Linked DNA regions of Homo sapiens. The protein of the gene in region 5 purifies or fractionates together with the protein of the main gene of each other region. This does not show direct contact. Each region holds a gene or a part of one and is shown on either strand. Other genes may lie near its edges. The genes, in order: TNKS2, PLEKHG3, HS3ST1, LMAN1 and CGREF1.

Region 1 (3,517 bases), on a different chromosome or scaffold from region 5:
CTAATAATCAGAACTATTTAGCCTTCAGACCATATATGACAAATAAAAACAGCAGTGTTCAATTTACAGGAAATTACATGCCTCCTAACCACTCCAATTTATGATCTAAAATAGAAGTGAGTGGGACGTCATACATAGGAGGGCCTACTGTGTACTACCTATGCAGGCCTAAATTTAGAGGGGTAACAGTAAGAACAAAACAAACACAAAGAAAGAACCTGTTTCCCTCCATGACTGCAATTCTTCAGCTCGGAAGCCCTTTGAAATCAACTGGGAAGCTTTTAAAAATTCTAATATCCAGATCATGCCCCAGACCAATTAAAAGAGATTCTGTGAGGGTGGGACACAGGCATTAATAGTTTTTTAATATTCCCTGGGTGATTCCAATGTGCTGCCAAAGTGCAAAGTACTGCTCTAGGGGTTTTTTTCTAGATCAGTGGTCAGAAATACAGTGTCACATCTGGGAACTTGGTAGAAACTCAAATTCTAGAGTCTCATCCCAGATCTACTAAATCAGCAACTGAGAAGGTGGAGCCTAAGAATCTGTGATTTAAACAAGCCATCTAGGTGACTCTAATGCATGCTAATGCTTGATAAACTACTGCTCTGTATATTCAATAAGCAGTGCCCTAACTGTCGAATAAATCTCAGGAATTAATCTTACTGGATTTTTCAAGTGGCATTACTTTTTGCCTATAAGGATTTTATAAGTTAGGGACAAGTTACTTAAATGATTTTTAACAAGTGAGTTAGAACAGGTAATTAAAAGTGGAAAAAAAAAGTGCAAAGTAGTTATTTGATTATTATTTCCTTTCAAAAAGGATCAATGTTTTAATTTCAAGTTCTTATAGTAATATTGCAAATTGAGGATTAGGATCGTATCACAGTGGAAGAGAGGCTCAGGCACTGCCATCAAATAATTAGATTTGACAAATAATGCCATTTTAGCATTTGAATACTAGATTTTTAGAGTCCACAGAGTCCTACAATACTCAAGGGCTACAATAAAGCCTCTTTCATGCCTAATGTTACTTTCTACTCAGTATGCTTTAAGGCACCAGATATTCTAATGATTAAATTAGCCAAACAGGTCAAGTGCTTAAATTATAATTGGCCCATACGGATCATTTAATAAATATTAGCTATTATTACAATTGGTGAGAGGGCCAAAAGCAATCTAAAACATGCCTAGCTTGCATTCCTAAGACTGTCCAACATAATGCTTTGCCCTCAAAAATGCAACTAGTTCTTATCTGATTACCACCAAAATAAATGAGAACAAGTGATCTCTTACCTGTGGCAAATGTAACAAGATCTGTCTTTGTGAACTGGACACCCAGTACCTCCTCCAATTCCATATACATATTGATTGCTTTTGGAAGAGTTTTCAGCAAAATAAATGCCAGCTCCAAACATACCACCTATGTACGCATGCCTTTCATCAAAGCCTTTGTGGATAATTGCATTCACAAAAGGAGACCCTGAAACACATATAGATGGGTAACAATAATTTAAAATTTATCTTAGAATAAAAAGTAAAAAACTAGTTTCTTAGAAACTGAATTCTTAAATATATAGCCCAACCATAATAAAGCCAAAACGAAAAAGGGTAACAAGTTAACTGTCAGCCAGCTATTTTAGAATAAAGAACTGCTAACATCAACTAATGTTTCTAACAGAGTGCTGGTTTATGTGCTAAAATAAGGACACAGATTGAACTAGAAAAACAGAGTACTTGAAATATCAGTGTAAGAGTTACCAAATGCCAGACTGCAAATCCATAAAAATCTAAAACCAAGAGGCTCATAATTCACTTTAGATAGCAAAGCTAAATGCAATTAGGTCTTAGAATGATGCCTATGCCTGTGTGCTTTTTTGAAGATACCAAGTGGCCCAAGTAGACTTTCACATTCTTTTTTTTTTTAAATTTTTTTGAGATGTAGTCTCGCTCTGTGGCCCAGGCTGGAGTGCAGTGGCATGATCTTGGCTCACTGCAACCTCTGCCTCCCGGGTTCAAGCAATTCTCCTGTCTCAGCCTCCTGAGTAGCTGGGACTATAGGTGCACACCACCATGCCTGGCTAACTTTTGTATTTTTAGTAGAGACAGGGTTTCAACATATTGGTCAGGCTGGTCTCAAACTCCTGACCTCAGGTGATCCACTCACCTTGGCCTCCCAAAGTGTTGGGATTACAGGCGTGAGCCACCGCACCCGGCCCAACTTTCACATTCTTATTCTCTTTCTTATACCTCTTCTCTTCTATCCTTCCACTTCTGCCTTTCATTAATTACGATACAAGATTCTATCTGCAAATGTGGTGCTTTCCCTCACCCCCTGCACATTGACTTCTCTCTCCTCTTTCCTTGGGAGTGGAGTAGAGTGGGGGATGGAAAAAGTCAAAAAACCACAGCTAATTCATTTATCAAGATCACATTCCCTTTCCACAGACAGACAGGAAAATATACTGAATTCTACTTTACAGAAATACAGATGAATAGAATCATTTTTTGAATTAACTTGGGAAAACCAAAATTATTTATATTACAAATTAGAAAAACCATATTATAACCATCAATTAACAGATAAATAAATATGCTCTGTGTCAAGAGATTATCATGATAATTATTTAGGGTTTTGGAATAAGGAGTGCAACATGTTTAGATTCTGCACATGAATCCATTCTGTTACAGCCATTCTCCCAGGGTATTATGAAATTTACTGTGTTTTAGAGAACTTTACAGGTCTCTAAAATTTTTCTGCAATCAAGGACAAATGAAGAAACAGACTGGAACTACTATGGGTAATGTACTTGAAGCCCTCATAAATACTACATTAATATGTTTAACTTTGCTAAAATTTGAAAGACTAATCAACACCTGCCAGCTTATAATACAAAAAAAGTAGAAAATTCCAAGAAGAATAAGTAATTGTGCTTTCAATTCAATTCTATGGTTTCAATTCTACAGTCATCAGAAACCTCTACAGGTTCAATAACAATGGCTCTTTTCAAATTGTGTGGGTTTGATACTTAGAATCAAAATCAGAATAGGATGTACACCTTCTTCTGAGGTGATTCCCAGGTCTTATTTTTAATTCAATCAACTAGTTAAATGGAAAACACAAAATTTCCTAGAGTGACCATAAGCAAAATTTACTATTTAAAGAAAAAAGGAAAAGATAGTCAACACTCTCATTTCTATTTTTATTGTGGTAATCTTATTTAAAAACAATCCATTATAAAATACACAAATTCAAAAGAAGTTGAAAATATAAATGTGAAAGTTACAGAAATAGTAGGTTTATCTTAAAATACTGACATAAAGAATATACAGGCTTATTATTATTTCATATCTGAACAAAAAAACTATCCTAATGTGGAAGACAGTGGTAGAGTTGGTGGGGAGGAATCTTACCATGAAATAGCATTCGTTCATTGGCATGGTTGTGGTTTTCTTCAGAAACTTCTTTTCTCCGGTGAGTGTATCTTTCCCATAGTTTCTTGTTACAAACCTTCTGAA
Region 2 (3,517 bases), on a different chromosome or scaffold from region 5:
AAGACCAGCCTGGACAACACAGTGAGGCCTCATCTCTACAAAATTAAAAAGTTAGCTAGGCATGGTGGTGTGCACCTATAGTCCTAGCTACTCTGGAGGCTGAGGTGGGAGGATCACTTGAGCCTGGAAGGCAGAGGTTGCAGTGAATGGATATCGTGCCCCTGCACCCACCCAGCCTGGCTGACAGATGAGACCTTGTTGCAAAAAAACAAAACAAAACAAAACAAAAAAAGAAATCAATCTGTTGAACTTGTGGGAACTGTAGACCACAAAAAGATCAGGAAAGTCACTAGGGAGGGACTTGGGCCACATGCAGGCACTTTACTGCCTGGGCTCAGCCATCTACTCTGACTTCCTTGAGGTTTTTTCTGCTTCTGCTTCCCACTCAGAGAGCTGAGATGAGCTGACAAGTGTATTCTATTGATAATTAAGTTCTATTGTTTAATTTAAATTATGTCTCACTTATTAAATATTCTTGATAAGTTTTAAAATGAAAGAATAGAACATTTTCTACTTTTCACTTTAAAAACAATTAGGCATTTACTTACATTGATACAGATAGTGTATGTATGTTGTGTGTGTCAGCAGAAAAGAGGTTCTTCAACAGGCCTGCCTGCTGAGGAACAGCAAGATACCTTGGTAGACTTTCCTTCTGACTCCAGGTGTGTAGCAAATCATGGCGATCCCTGGGCCTCCCACTTACCGCCAGCTGGGCAAGGATATGGATAGGCGAAGGCCGAGGCTCTGTAGAACTGGACCTTGAGACAAGGTCCTCTTATTCCTGCCCTCCAGTCTCAGGTGTATCCTCAAAAAGGCTGGGGTACACGGTGATGACACCATTGGCCTAATGGATGTGTTTTGTATCCTGTCCCCAGAGCCTGGTCACTCTCCGTACAGCCGGGCAACTCTCCCCAGCGGTCAGCGAGGCTTCGTGATGCCCAGCCTTAAGGGCCGTAGAAAGTCGGGTGCGACCTCTGCTTTCCAGCTGGGATGCTGTGAGGGGCTTGGCAGTGGGTGTAGCTGATGCGCTGATATGCTCATTGCCAGGGAGGCAAGGGGCTTGAGGTGGAGCCAGGGACCTCCGGAGATGTTGCTAGTTGGTCTGAAGGGGGTAGCATGGAACTGAGTCCCCTCCCTATGGCTCCTGCGCGAGGGCCCTGGGCCAGGTGCCCTAATGCATTGCATCATGGGTGGTACTGCTCCGGCAGGGCTGGTAGTCACAGCGGGGGTCCTGGAGATGGATGGGCCCGCCTCCCTGTCCGTAGGTGCAAGGGGGCTCGCCGACACTGTGGAAGGCAGCTTCCCTGGGGCCTATGACTGCAGGGGGCCAAGCCAGAGTGGACTTTGAGCTGGTGATGGGCTGGTGGCGCTGTGAGCTTGGGACCCAGCCAGGCACAGCAGTTTCCTGGCCCGCGCTGACTCTGCTCATGCTTTCCTCCTCAGAGCCAACCAAACACCTGCTCAGGCAACTCAACGAGAAAGGTGAGTGTGTGAGGTGGCCAGCCATTCCCAGTGAGCGGGGGAGGAGGAGGGAGGAGGGGAAGCAGCCGACAACCTGGGGTGTGACCTGAGGGTGGAGGATTGTCAGAATAGTGTAGAGGGAACTCTGCCTCCATTCCCCCCAGAAGAGGGCCTCGCCCCTGGCTGGCTGAGGAGAGGGGCTGGAGCTCTCCCCCATGCACAGGCCTCATGCCCTTTCCTCCGGAAACAATGAGAGCCGAGCAACAGGCACAGACCTGCGCTGCTCTGTGGCCCCTGGGCCCCTGCTCTGTCAGTCATTCTTTTGAAAGCCCAGGAGACTAGGTGAGGGTTCTGGGAGCAGGAGCCCCCAGTGAGGACTTCCCCAGGGAGCTGTCCAGAGGTCTTTTTCCTGCTTACTGATCTCTTCCCCTCCCCTCCCCTGCCCCTCGCCCGTGTGCTGGGGGACCCGGTGGTGATGTCTGCAGCCCGAGCAGCAGGAATGAAGGTAAAGGCCAGTGGGAGGAGGGGACTGGCTGACAGAGGAGGGTGGGACTGCCCAGGTCAGCCCCCGGCCCCTTCAGCCCTCATTGTCTTCATTCATTCAACAAATGCCTACTAAGCACCCACTGTGTACCAGGCTGTGTGGCTTAGGGCCACAGAGATGAATAAGACATGGGCCTTGCCCTGGGGGCCCTTCTGCACCCTCTGCCTAGAACAGCACCCTGCTGGGGGCCTGCCCAGTGTGGACCTACTCAGATTTCCCTCTCCCTAGGGTAGACAAGTAGGCAGGCCTGTTTGGGTTCTGAAGTTTTGACCAGGTCCCAGCCTTTCCACCATGAGAATGCCCACCCCTCCCTGGACCCCAGTGGCAACCTGAGTTGGGCATCTAGGTGTGGCTTTCTGTGTGAAGGCTCCCCCCCCGCAGCTGCCTGCAGGAGGACGGGAGGTTGCCCAAGAGGCTGGTCACGAGGGGGTCTTGTGCTCTGAACAGCATGCAGGCAGTGCTGGAACCCTCCTGGACTTTGGGCAGCCCTCCCGTACTCGGGGCCTGCAGCCAGAGGCTGAAGGGGCTACCCAGGAGGAGGAAGAGGAAGAGGAGGAGGTGGTGGAGGAGGAGGAGGAGGAGGAGGAGGAAGAGCAGGCCTTTCAGGTCTCTCTGGAGGACCTGACAGGGCATGAAGGCAACGAGAAGGGGGCTGGGCCGGAGCCCCCAGGCTCAGAGGAGGAGGAGGAGGAGCAGGAGGAGAGCCTGGCGGTGGCGGAGCAGGTAGCCGACTTTGCCAGCTCCCTGCTGGCCGCCCTCCACTGCTGGCACTATCGGGCCAACGCTTTACTTTTCTCCCGGGGCGCTATGGTGAGGTGTCTCTTCGATCTCCCCTCCTCCTTGCATGCTCCCTGGGATGTGCATGCCCACCCGAGGGCCCCCTCTGCTGCCCTCCTCACCCCACCCTGCCCTGGTTTTACTCCTCCCCTCAGCACTTAACACCATCGCTCGCTGTCACACCCTGGTGAGCCCCTGGCATGCTCTGTTCCAGTACTGGGCACTAATCAATATAACGCCCAACAAGCATGACAAGTGGGGTGGGGTGGTGGGGGCAGGGAGAAGCTAGCACACAGTGGGGCTGGAAAGGTCAAGTCCACTTTGGAGGGACAGAAAGGTGGGCTGAGGTTTTTTGAAGCTGCATGCCTGACAAGGCTTTCCGCAGCCCCAGGCCTGGCAGTTCAGGTTGGCTCTGGAATGGCTCAGGTCCAAGACTGGCTCTCAGCTCAGCCCAGCCCCTTGGGGCGTGGGAGGCACTGCCCGTGTTGGGATGCAGAAGGGATCAGCTTCCAGTTGTCTTGGAGTTGATGACTGACCTCTACCTCTGCAGGGAAAGGGGCGCAGGGAGTCTGAAAGCTCCAGGAGCAGCAGAAGGCCCAGTGGCCGGTCTCCAACCAGTACTGAGAAGCGCATGAGCTTCGAGTCCATTTCTTCCCTGCCAGAGGTGAGCGACCAGCAGGTGGGATGGGGATAGTAGGAAGAACTTGGAGTCCAGATTTTCAAGTCTGCAAATAG
Region 3 (3,517 bases), on a different chromosome or scaffold from region 5:
GTGGGAGAGTGTGAGAAAGTAAGCAAATAAGCCAATCCAGTAACAAGGTGACTCCAGATAAACATACTTGCTACCTAATTATGTTACTGAAGAAATTATTACCATGAAAGAAAGAAGGTGATGAAAGGGAAATATTCTTGGGATGGTCCATCTCATGAGACAGGCAGAGACTCGGTTATTTATCTGACTCCCATACTAAACTGTAAATTCATCAATGACAAGAACTATTTCTTAATATCCTGCACAACTGCCTTGTGAACGACAATCAATAGCAAAGGTAGGGGCAGATTTGGGAGAAGGTGTACCAGAGTCTCCAAGGGCACAAGCACACTTTACACTTGGAACACATTTTTTAAAAATAAATACTTTTAATAATGCAAAATGAAATTTTATAATAAAAATGTCATTGCCAGATAAAGAAATTAAAGCCTCAAAAAAATTTCCGTGGACGATGGGAGCAGGCTTAAAGTAAGTTAATAAGCACAGATGTAAACTGTTCCTGGAACAAAACAAATGATCAAGTTAAAAGGTGCTCAGGAGGCTGAGATAGGAGAATCCCTTGAACCCAGGAGGCAGAGGTTGCAGTGAGCTGGGATCACGCCACTGCACTCCAGCCAGGGCAACAAGAGCGAGACACCGTCAAAAAAAAAAAAAAAAAAAAAAAAAAAAGTGCTGAACGTCAGAGTTCTGAGTATGAAAACTCAACAATTAAGGCATCCTTACCACAGTCCTCAATCACTGTAGTTGCCTAATCATTTGAGATCATGTTTAATGTATTTCATGCTGGTCTATAATTTCCTTGCAGAGTAGTCCTTGACTGGTTTTGTTCATCAATGTACTCTAACACGTAATGCAATGCCGGGTACATGGCAGACAATAAACGTGCTCAATAGTCAGTTTTATTAAAATTGAGAGTATAGCTCAATATCCAAAACTACCCAATGGATGATAGACCCAGGATACAATCAAACTCCCACATAGAAAATATTTTATGTTGGATAATGAAATTTAACTTTGGGTTATGTTGAGCCAGAGACTGAACTGCAGGCTCCCTGGCTAACAGCCTAAGGTTTCTCCCCAGTATCCTGATATTTCCTATCACTTTCCTCTAGTTTTTATTTTTTAATCCTTAGCACATCACTATCTAACTAGGAGAGATTCTGCTTATCTGTCTTGTGTTTTGTCTGTCTCCTCTGCTGGAAGATAAGCACAAGGGCGAGGACTTCCATCTGTTTTGTTCCCTACTGTGTCACCGGTGAGCAGAACAATATGCGGTACATGGCTGGAACTCAATAAACGTGTTAAAGGAGTAAACATGATTGCTGTAACCACTTGCAGAGATAGGAAGAAGGAACATCCCGAACAGAGGTTCACTCTGTAAACAGTAACTAACTAGAGCACTGTCTGTGCTCCATGTCCCTACACTCTTGCCTCGATATTCTGAACAACATGCCCTCCTGAATTTCATATTCCAAATTTCCCTCATATCCCTGGAAACCAGAGGCCATACATTGGAGGCCTGTGTGACAGATATAAGGCTTACACACAGAAATGTTTGGTTTGGCCCACATGGTGTTATTTAGGAATATCGAATTAGCTGCTGGCACTTGAAAGTGAGTAGATTTTACATAAAACTGTGAATTGACAGTCTATCTTGAAAAAAAAAAAAAAAAAAAAACATAACCAGGTCTGGCAAGACCAGACCTGAAGTCCCGCCTGCAGCCCCTGTGCTGGATCTGGGCTACAACCCCCACTTACCCAGGCACAGGGCCCAAGTCCTGTTCCACTCAAGCTGTTACTTGCCTGGCTGCTGAAGACATTAGAGTTTGCGACCCCTGCTGGAAAACTACCAAAAAGCATAATGTATTAGAGAAAAAGAAAGATGCCCACTGGGATCTATTTCTGTTATGTTTAGAGTATTGCTTGGAAGAATAATGTATTCATTTTTCTAGACCTCTTGTAGTAGCACATAACTATTGACAAACTACGGCCCAGTAGATATTATTCTAACGATCTGAAAAAGCTACAGACTTCATTCCCCATGGGTAGAGGAAGCTAAGGATGTTTCATGCTGGAGACAGGCCTGAAGATGAATGGGGAGAAGCTGTACATCAGTGGGTTGCAATTCTGGCTAAGTCAGGGAGAAAGGGAATTCACTTGAAGACTATGGGTTGCCTCTAGGAATTGCTGAGAAGCTGAAAAGCCAGGATTGGAAAATGAGAAGGAATGAAAGGAACCTGGGCACCAGAGGCACATCAAGATGGTGTTGCAGAAAAGGCACCTCTGGGACCACAGCTTGGGACATGCATACTGCTGCCAACGCCACTTGATCCATGATCCAAGGTGGTAAATAAACACTCCAATGTCCCTGTGCCCTTTAGCTAGTCTTTCAAGATTCCAGGCCCCAGGTGGGATCATTCAACTAAGCCCTAGTTCAGGGCTGGGAGATATGGACAAGGAGAAAGAGGCCCATCTCCCACAAAAAAAAAAAAAAATCCTTCTATGAAGGGAAGGTTGTGTTCCCTAAATAGGATGTTTGGTTCCAACTGCTTAGAAGGGTTTTAAGTGAGTCTGAAGAGAGAGGGCACTACAAGCACGACTGTAGAGTGGAATAAGAACAGACAGGCCTGAATTCTAGTCTGGAATCCTTTGTACCTTTAGAAAATTAATTAAGTTTTCCGATCGGCAGATTCCAAATCCTTAAAATAGAAATGACGCCATCTGCTCTCCAAGGTTGCTGTGAAGATTCAGTCCAATCACTCATTCAATTATTCCAAATATACTTATTGAATGTCTAAGTGCCAGGCAGGCACTGAGTTAGGTTCTGGAGACACGTTTGGAACAACACCTAAAATGCAATGATGAGGAGCCAGTGCATTATGCTGATGAAAGATTCAGACAAGGGGGACCCGGGTCATCTCGTGACACTGGTCATGTTTTACTTTTCCCCAGTGGAGTCACTCCCCATTTGTGACTTTTCTCCTTTTTTAAAAAAATTATTAATTAACATCAGGGCCCTCTCTTCAAACAGATTTTCTTAAGACATGTAATGTGTATTATGTTAAAAGGAAAAACACTCTAAAAATTGACTGTGATCCTGAAAACAAGAAAGGAATCATTCTGAGAAGTAGTGAGGCCCGGTGCTTGTAGCATTCAGGTGGAGTGATCACAAGAAGAGACTGGCCAATTAAAAGAAATCTCTCCCACTTAATGTTTAGCATATGTCATTTACTCAGACATATGCAAACTATGATTAAAATGAACATTAAAATAGATCTACGATAAAACTTAATTTTTTGTATTTTTTACCCTTTACAATTGCACAAGTGTTCTCCAATCGGCAAGATGCATTTCATATACATTTTCTCACTTTCTTATAATAATCTTTTCATCACTGTTTTGCAGAGGAAGAAATTTAGGGTCAGGGAGGGAGAAATTGTTGCCCAAGGTCATGGGGCAAGAAGTTGGCTTTAAATCCAGCTAGCACTCTCCTGCCTTCTGCCATAAGAAAAGAGCA
Region 4 (3,517 bases), on a different chromosome or scaffold from region 5:
GAATAATTTCAGGAGAATTGGTTCTTCTTGATATGTTTGATAGAATTCAGCTATAAGTCCATCTAGTCCCGGCTGTTGTTAAGAGATTTTTTTTTTTACTACTGATTCAGTCTTGCTACTCATTATTGATCTGTTCAGGAGTTCTGTTTCTTCCTGTTTCAGTCTCAGAAAGTTGTGTGTTTCCAGGAACTTATCCATTTCCTCTAGGTTTTCTAGTTTGTGAGCATATAGGTGTTCAAATAGTTTCTGACGATCTTTTGTGTATTTGTGGAATCTGTTGTAATGTCTCCTTCTTTTCTGATTGTGTTTATTTGGATCGTCTCTCTTCTTTTCTTGCCTAGTCTAGCTAGTGGTTTATCAATTTTGTTTATCTTTTCAAGGAAGCAACTTTTTGTTTTGTTGATCCTTTATTAATTTTTTTGGTCTCTATTTCATTTAGCTTTGCTCTTATGTTTGTTATTTCTTTTCTTTGCTAACTTTGGGTTTGGTTTGTTCTTGTTTTTCTAGTTTGCAGAGGAATAATGTTAGATTGTTTGCGATCTTTCCACTTTCTGATGTGGCATTTAATGCTGTAAACTGCCCTCTTCACACTGCTTTTTTCAGTTTTGGTTTGGTGTTTCCATTTTCATTCATTTCAAGAAATTTTTACATTTGTGTCTTAATTTCTTCATTGACAAAGTGAATGTTCAGGAGCATGCTGTTTAATTTCCATGTGTTTGTTTAGTTTCTTAAGTTCCTCTTAGTATTGATTTCTAGATTCATTCCATTGTGGTCTAAGACACTTGATATGATTCTGATTTTCAAAAATTTGCTAAGACTTATTTTGTGGCCTAATATGTAGTCCTGTGTCGGAGAGTCTTCTATGTGCTGGTGAAAAGAATGTATATTCCATAGTTATTGTAGAAAGTTCTGTAAATGTCTAAGTCCATTTGGTCTAAAGTCCAATTTAAGCCCAATGTTTCTTTGTTATTTTTCTGTCTCGATCTATCTAGTGTTGTGTGTGTGGTGTTAAATTCTCCCACTATTATTGTATTACTGTTTTTCTCTTTCTTTAGGTCTCGTAATAATTGTTTTCTGAATTTTGATGCTCTAATGTTGGGTGCATATAAATTAGGATTGTTATATCCTCTTGGTGAATTGATCCCTTTATCATTATATAATAACCTTCTTTGTCTTTTCTTTTTTAAGTCTGTTTTATCTCATATAAGTACAGCTACTCCTCTCACTTTTGGTTTCCATTTGCTTGGACTATTATTTTCCACCTCTTTACTTTCAGTCTATGTGTGTCTTTATGAATAACCTAAGTTTCTTGTAGGCAGTATATAGTTGTGCCATGTATTTTAATCCATTCTGCCAGTCTGTATCTTTTAGTGGAACATTTAATCCATCTGCATTCAAGGTTAATATTGATATATGAGGCTTTGTTCTTGTCATATTGTTCATTATTTTCAAGTTGTCTTATAAATTCTTTGTTCCTTTCTTTTTTCCATCTTTGTCTTTGTCATTTGATGAAATTCTGTCATGTTGCCATTTGATTCTTACATCTTCCTCCCCTCTGTGATTGTTTTATAAGAACTTTTATTTTATATTTCTGTTTTTATCATGGTGAATATTGCCCTTTTGTTTCCATGTTTAAGACCGCTTTGAGCATTTCCTGTCATGCTGGTCTGGTAATGACGGATTTCCCCAGCATTTGCTTGTCTGGGAAAGGCTTTATTTCTTCTTCATTTGTGAAGCTGATTCTAGCAGGATATAAAATTCTTGGCTGACAGTTTTTTTTTTTCTTTTATTAGCACTTTGAGAATGCCCATTCCTTTCTGGCCTGTAAAGCTTCTGCTGAAAAGTCTGCTGTTAATCTGATGGAATTTCCATTATAAGTGACTAAATACTTCTCTCTTGCTAATTTTAAAATTATTTCACATTGACTTTAGACATTCTGAATACAATATGCTGTAGTGAAACCCTTTTTGCAATATATTTTTCTGGGGATTGCTGGGCCTCCTGTATCTGGACATCTAACTCTTTTGCTAGACTTGGGAAGCTCTCATCAATTATTTTCTTAGTTATTCTCCTTAGCCAGACAACAACTGCAGCCATATGAACTTGAACTCGGACTAAGGATAGGGCACAGCCCAGCATGAAACTCTCAAAATTGTGCCTTGTGCCTGGGACCAGGGAGAGCAGGGCCCTTCCTAGTCAGGTGTCATGAGCAAGAAGCTGTAAGGAGTGCAGTCTGCTCACATCTCAGTTTCACAAGAGCCCATTGCAGGGCAGTGGGTATTGTCCTAGATATGCATAGGAGAGCCTGTTTCCTGTCTCTCCTTGGCCAGGTGGTAGCTACAGCCTTGTCAGCCCAAACATAGCCTGAGGGTGGGGCACAACCCTCCATTAAACTCTCAGTGTTTCACCTTGGGTCTGGGACCAGAGAGGGTAGGGTCCCTTCCAGGCAAGCAGCATGGGCAAGAAGCTGTGGGGAGTGCTGTCTACTCATGTCTCAGTATCAGCAGCACCCTTCAGCAAGGCAGGAGGGACCTTCCTAGGGGTGCATGGGAGTGACCAGTGTCCCCCCTTCTCTCCTTGGAACATTGCAGCGACTGCAGCCATGTCTGTAGATCCCCAGTATCTAGGCTATCAACAGTGGTGCCCAACTGGAGCTGTTGTAGGCTCAAATGCCTGTGGGATTCCATGTGGTTTCCCTTTATGGAGCAACATCTCTGTGCAATATTTAGGCAGTTCCATATGTCCAGCCCACAGCCCTAGTGGGTCAGAGGTTTCTCCTGTAGCCAGGATCATAAAAGCCCATTTTGGACTGCAGGGCCCTGGGGTTTTCTCTCTTACTGTTTCCCATCATCTAGGAGCCCTTCTGGTGCTCAGTCAGCTCCTGGCTGGGCAAGCTGCCTCAAACTCTCTCCTTATTTTGGTGCTTCCCATTTCTTCTCTGATGAATCCTAGCATTCTCTCCTAGGCAATCTATTTGAAATGCAAGTATCTACTTACTACTCTGGTTTTTCTCCGTGGAGGAGGTACATACTACTTGCATCTGGTTAGCCATTTTGATCCCTCCTGAGATTATCCAAGAAAAATTGTTTTTAAATAAAAAAATTTAAACCCAGTTTATAATAAGTGTTCAATCACCTGAAATGGCAGAAAACAAATAATTTAATCATTATTGAATTAATTATTTGCATATTTTCTGTTTGGGAGATTGTACCACTGTGATGGTGATGTCCTAATTTTGCTGAATGTTGGCACTTTGGTCACTTACGTTATTTCAAAAACTACATATGTGTAGGTGACTCTGATCATTTTTATTTATTTCCTTTTCAGCGGAGGAAATATTTGAGAGTGTAGGAGATCGAGAGCTAAGACAAGTCTTTGAAGGACAGAATCGTATTCATCTTGAAATCAAGCAGCTGAACCGGCAGTTAGATATGATTCTTGATGAACAGAGAAGATATGTCTCTTCCTTAACAGAGGAAATCTCTAAAAGAGGAGCAGGAATGCCTGGGCAGCATGG
Region 5 (4,108 bases):
CATTTCCTCTTTTGATATGAACACCAGTCATATTGATTAGGGGCCCACCCTACTCCAGTATGACCTCATCTTAATGGATTACATCTGCAATGACCCTATTTCCAAATAAGGTCACAGTCTGAGGTATTGGAGGTTAAGACTTCAACATATAACTTTGTGAAGGACACGAGTCAATGCATAACAGTGATGGGAGCTAGGTGAGCAGATGAGCACATGAGCAGATGGAAAGTGAGGAGAGGGCCCTGAGGAACTCTGACGGTGAAGAAAATGGAGACCTTTTTGAAATGACCAGAGGTAGGAGAGGTATTGCCGAAACCAGCAGAATCCGTGATCTAAAAAGGCAGTGACAAGCAGTGTTCATCACTGGGAGGAGGACAGGATGAGAGTGGGCTTGTCGCTGTGATGACAGTGTCGCTGTGATGGAGTGTCACAAACAACTCAGGAAGAGTTCACCCTGACACCCCAATACATATGCCTCTAACACTCTGCACCGCCACACCCCTGGGCAGTCAGTCACACATTGGCCATACCCTGAAGCCCACACTATCATTTATTTTTTATTTATTTATTTATTTATTGAGACGGAGTCTCAGTCTTGCTTTGTCACCCAGGCTGGAGTGCAGTGGCGTGATCTCGGCTCACTGCAAGCTCCACCACCCAGGTTCATGCCATCCTCCTGCCTCAGCCTCCCGAGTAGCTGACACTACAGGCGCCCGTCACCATGCCCGGCTAATGTTTTTGTATTTTCAGTAGAGACGGGGTTTCACTGTGTTAACCAGGATGGTCTCCATCTCCTGACCTCGTGATCCACCCGCCTTGGCCTCCCAAAGTGGTGGGATTACAGGTGTGAGCCACCACGCCCGGCCCCTGAAGCCCACACTATCACACGGATGCACAGTCACACAAAATACCCCCTACCGTGTCACAAATTCCTCATACACAGAGCCACACATGCCAGTCACAACCGCACATGCTAACAGTAAGTTAGGTTCCATTTTGTCACATACATCTGGGTCCCTCAGGCAGAGAAAGTGGCAACCAAAGCATGAGCACAGTTAAACATACTTCTGATGCACACTGGCCTCACTGTCTCTTGGTCTCTCTGTACTCACATGTGTGCATACAGGCACACGCACACATCCGCGCACACATGCACGCTCACACACGTGCATCCTTACACATGCTCACACTCACGCTCACAATGTCACACGCATGTGCACACCCGCACAAGCACACGAGCGCACTCACGAGCACACGCGGACTCGCACACGCGCACATGCGCACTCACGCACGCACACACGCGCACACTCACACGGGCGCGCGCAGCCCCTCCGGCCGCGGGCGCAGCGGGGGCGCTGGTGGAGCTGCGAAGGGCCAGGTCCGGCGGGCGGGGCGGCGGCTGGCACTGGCTCCGGACTCTGCCCGGCCAGGGCGGCGGCTCCAGCCGGGAGGGCGACGTGGAGCGGCCACGTGGAGCGGCCCGGGGGAGGCTGGCGGCGGGAGGCGAGGCGCGGGCGGCGCAGCAGCCAGGAGCGCCCACGGAGCTGGACCCCCAGAGCCGCGCGGCGCCGCAGCAGGTGGGTGACACCCCGCCCCGGCCGGCCGGAGACCCGAGCCCATCGCCGTCAGCCAGCCAGGGCCGCGCGGGGTAGGTGGCCTCCAGCCTCTGGTCCAGATCCCGAGAGCGCAGTCCCTCTGCATCCCCTGCGGCTCAGACGCGGCGGGAGCAGTGGCCCTTGCCCCTGTGTACCCTGAGGGCAGGTGGAGGAAGGGACTGGAGAGCGAGCCTGAGGCTCCTTGGTGTGAATTTGGGGCTTCGCAGTTCCCCAGGCGCTTCCCCCAGCCCCGCATTCCGTGTTCCAGCAGTCCTGGGGGAGGGGCAGCTGGCGGGAGCTTTCCCCCTCATCCGACGGGGAAGAAATGGAGCGCTGGGGAGGGCCCGAGGCTGTCGTCCGCTTGCAGGTGGCCGAGGGACCAGCTCCCGGGTGTGGGCTCCTCTAGCCCTGTAGCCGCTGTCTCCTTTCTTGGGGGATGGGTGCTGGGAGGCACAAGGGCACCAGAGGGATAAATTAAGAATTAAGGGAGAGGATTCTACTCAAAATTTTAGCTTCCCAACAGTTCGACTCTACAGGAGATGGAACTGCCGGCCTGTGAGGTGCTAGGTTCCTGTCCTGGAATGATTCAAGCAGAGGCCATTTGACAGGGTTGCTGAGGAAGAAATTTTTGCTTTGGATGGGAAGTTACCCAGGATAACCCTGCAAGGCCCCTGCCACAGCCCAGAGGCTCTGAAATACCCAAGCAGCACCTGCTTGGTGCCAGGCACCTACCCTAAGTTTTCTCATTGCAGCCTCCCCAAACCTTTAGGAGACAGATACCGTTATCCTCATTTTTAAAATGCAGATCCCGACCAGGAGCAGTGGCTCACGCCTGTAATCCCAGCACTTTGGGAGGCCGAGACGGGCGGAACACGAAGTCAGGAAATCGATACCATCCTGGTTAACACGGTGAAACCCCGTCTCTGCTAAAAATACAAAAAAAATTTAGCCAGGCGTGGTGGCAGGCGCCTGTAGTCCCAGATACTCGGGAGGCTGAGGCAGGAGAATGGAGAATGGCGTGAACCCGGGAGGCGGAGCTTGCTGTGAGCCGAGATCGTGCCATTGCACTCCAGCCTGGGCGACAGAGCGAGACTCCGCCTCAAAAAAAAAAAAAAAAAAAAATTCAGATCCCAGGGCTCAGAGAGGTTAAGACACCTGCCTAGGTCCCACAGTGAGTAGTATCAGAGGCAGGATTTGATCAGAAGTCTAACCTGTAGAGCGTGCTCTCCTCCCATGCACTGGTGCAAAGGCTTGAAGAACACTGGGGCCGGAGGGTCATTGTGAATGTGTGAGTGCACGTGTGTGACATAACTTTATTAAATTACATGGCAACTGTTAACAGTTATGGTGGCTTTCATGTGTTTATTAGGGTAATTATGTTCATGCACATTATAGTTATAGAAAATGGTTAGGGACATTTTTATTGGACAGGCAGTGGTTCAATAACTATTTTATTTCTCTCACAAAAGCTTTTGTTAATGTTTAGAAATGTCTAAGTGTCAACACATCGCACTAACCTCATTACACATTACATGAGGTGTCTTAGCCTTTCCTTAAACCACTGAGGTGGGTTACTTGCACTAAAATGTCACAGTTGGAAGCATTACTTAGAATATTGGCCAGGTGCAGTGGCTCATGCCTGTAATCCCAGCACTTTGGGAGGCCAAGGTGGGTAGATCACTTGATCAGGGGTTCGAGAACAGCCTGTCCAACGTGGTGAAACCCCGTCTCTACTAAAAATACAAAAATTAGCCAGGTGTAGTGGTGCACACCTGTAATCCCAGCTACTTGGGAGGCTGAGGCAGGAGAATCGCTTGAGCCTGGGAAGTGGAGACTATGGTGAGTAGATTTTGCGCCACTGCACTCCAGCCTGGGTGACAGAGCGAGACTCTGTCTCAAAAAAAGAGAGAGAGAGAGAGAGAGAGAGAGAGAGAGAGAGAGAGAGAGAGAGAGAGAATAGGCCTGGCCTGGTGGCTCATCCCTGTAATCCCAGCACTTTGGGAGGCCAAGGTGGGCAGATCACCTGAGGTCAGGAGTTCAAGACCAGCCTGGCCAAGATGCCGAAACCCCATCTCTACTAAAAATACAAAATTAGCAGGTCATGGTGGCACATGCCTGTAATCCCAGCTACTCGGGAGGCTGAGGCAGGAGAATCGCTTGAACTCGGGAGGTGGAGGTTGTGGTGAGCTGAGATCGCGCCATTGCACTCCAGCCTGGGCAGCAGAGTGAGACTCTATCTCAAAAAAAAAAAAATTATACTGAAAGTCCACATCATTTACTTTTTTTTTTCTCTCTCTTTTTTTGAGACAGTCTTGCTCTGTGACCCCAGCTGGAGTGCAATGGCACAATCTTGGCTCATTGCAACCTCTGCCTCCTGGGTTCAAGCAATTCTCGTGTCTCAGCCTCCGAAGTAGCTGGGATTACAGGCACGTGCCACTGTGCCTGGCTAATTTTTATATTTTTAGTAGAGATGGGGTTTCACCATGTTGGCCAGGCTGGTCTCAAACTCCTGA

The links.
Region 1: the proteins of CGREF1 (region 5) and TNKS2 purify together in Homo sapiens (affinity purification with mass spectrometry; one large-scale study listed by BioGRID and IntAct). This does not show direct contact.
Region 2: the proteins of CGREF1 (region 5) and PLEKHG3 purify together in Homo sapiens (affinity purification with mass spectrometry; one large-scale study listed by BioGRID and IntAct). This does not show direct contact.
Region 3: the proteins of CGREF1 (region 5) and HS3ST1 purify together in Homo sapiens (affinity purification with mass spectrometry; one large-scale study listed by BioGRID and IntAct). This does not show direct contact.
Region 4: the proteins of CGREF1 (region 5) and LMAN1 purify together in Homo sapiens (affinity purification with mass spectrometry; one large-scale study listed by BioGRID and IntAct). This does not show direct contact.

Annotation. Positions count from the first base shown.
Region 1 is NC_000010.11:91,857,426-91,860,942, reverse strand, and holds part of TNKS2 (poly [ADP-ribose] polymerase tankyrase-2), read right to left. Parts: coding exon 3,413-3,517; intron 1,482-3,412; coding exon 1,295-1,481; intron 1-1,294. UniProt on the Homo sapiens protein: Poly-ADP-ribosyltransferase involved in various processes such as Wnt signaling pathway, telomere length and vesicle trafficking.
Region 2 is NC_000014.9:64,735,410-64,738,926, forward strand, and holds part of PLEKHG3 (pleckstrin homology domain-containing family G member 3), read left to right. Parts: intron 1-1,443; coding exon 1,444-1,482; intron 1,483-1,946; coding exon 1,947-1,966; intron 1,967-3,332; coding exon 3,333-3,446; intron 3,447-3,517. UniProt on the Homo sapiens protein: Plays a role in controlling cell polarity and cell motility by selectively binding newly polymerized actin and activating RAC1 and CDC42 to enhance local actin polymerization.
Region 3 is NC_000004.12:11,422,381-11,425,897, forward strand, and holds part of HS3ST1 (heparan sulfate glucosamine 3-O-sulfotransferase 1 precursor), read right to left. Parts: intron 1-3,517. UniProt on the Homo sapiens protein: Sulfotransferase that utilizes 3'-phospho-5'-adenylyl sulfate (PAPS) to catalyze the transfer of a sulfo group to position 3 of glucosamine residues in heparan. Catalyzes the rate limiting step in the biosynthesis of heparan sulfate (HSact).
Region 4 is NC_000018.10:59,338,764-59,342,280, reverse strand, and holds part of LMAN1 (protein ERGIC-53 precursor), read left to right. Parts: intron 1-3,327; coding exon 3,328-3,517. UniProt on the Homo sapiens protein: Mannose-specific lectin. May recognize sugar residues of glycoproteins, glycolipids, or glycosylphosphatidyl inositol anchors and may be involved in the sorting or recycling of proteins, lipids, or both.
Region 5 is NC_000002.12:27,116,315-27,120,422, reverse strand, and holds the start of CGREF1 (cell growth regulator with EF hand domain protein 1 isoform a precursor), read left to right. Parts: upstream 1-1,294; 5' UTR 1,295-1,577; exon of another isoform or gene 1,578-1,648; intron 1,649-2,937; exon of another isoform or gene 2,938-4,108. UniProt on the Homo sapiens protein: Mediates cell-cell adhesion in a calcium-dependent manner. Able to inhibit growth in several cell lines.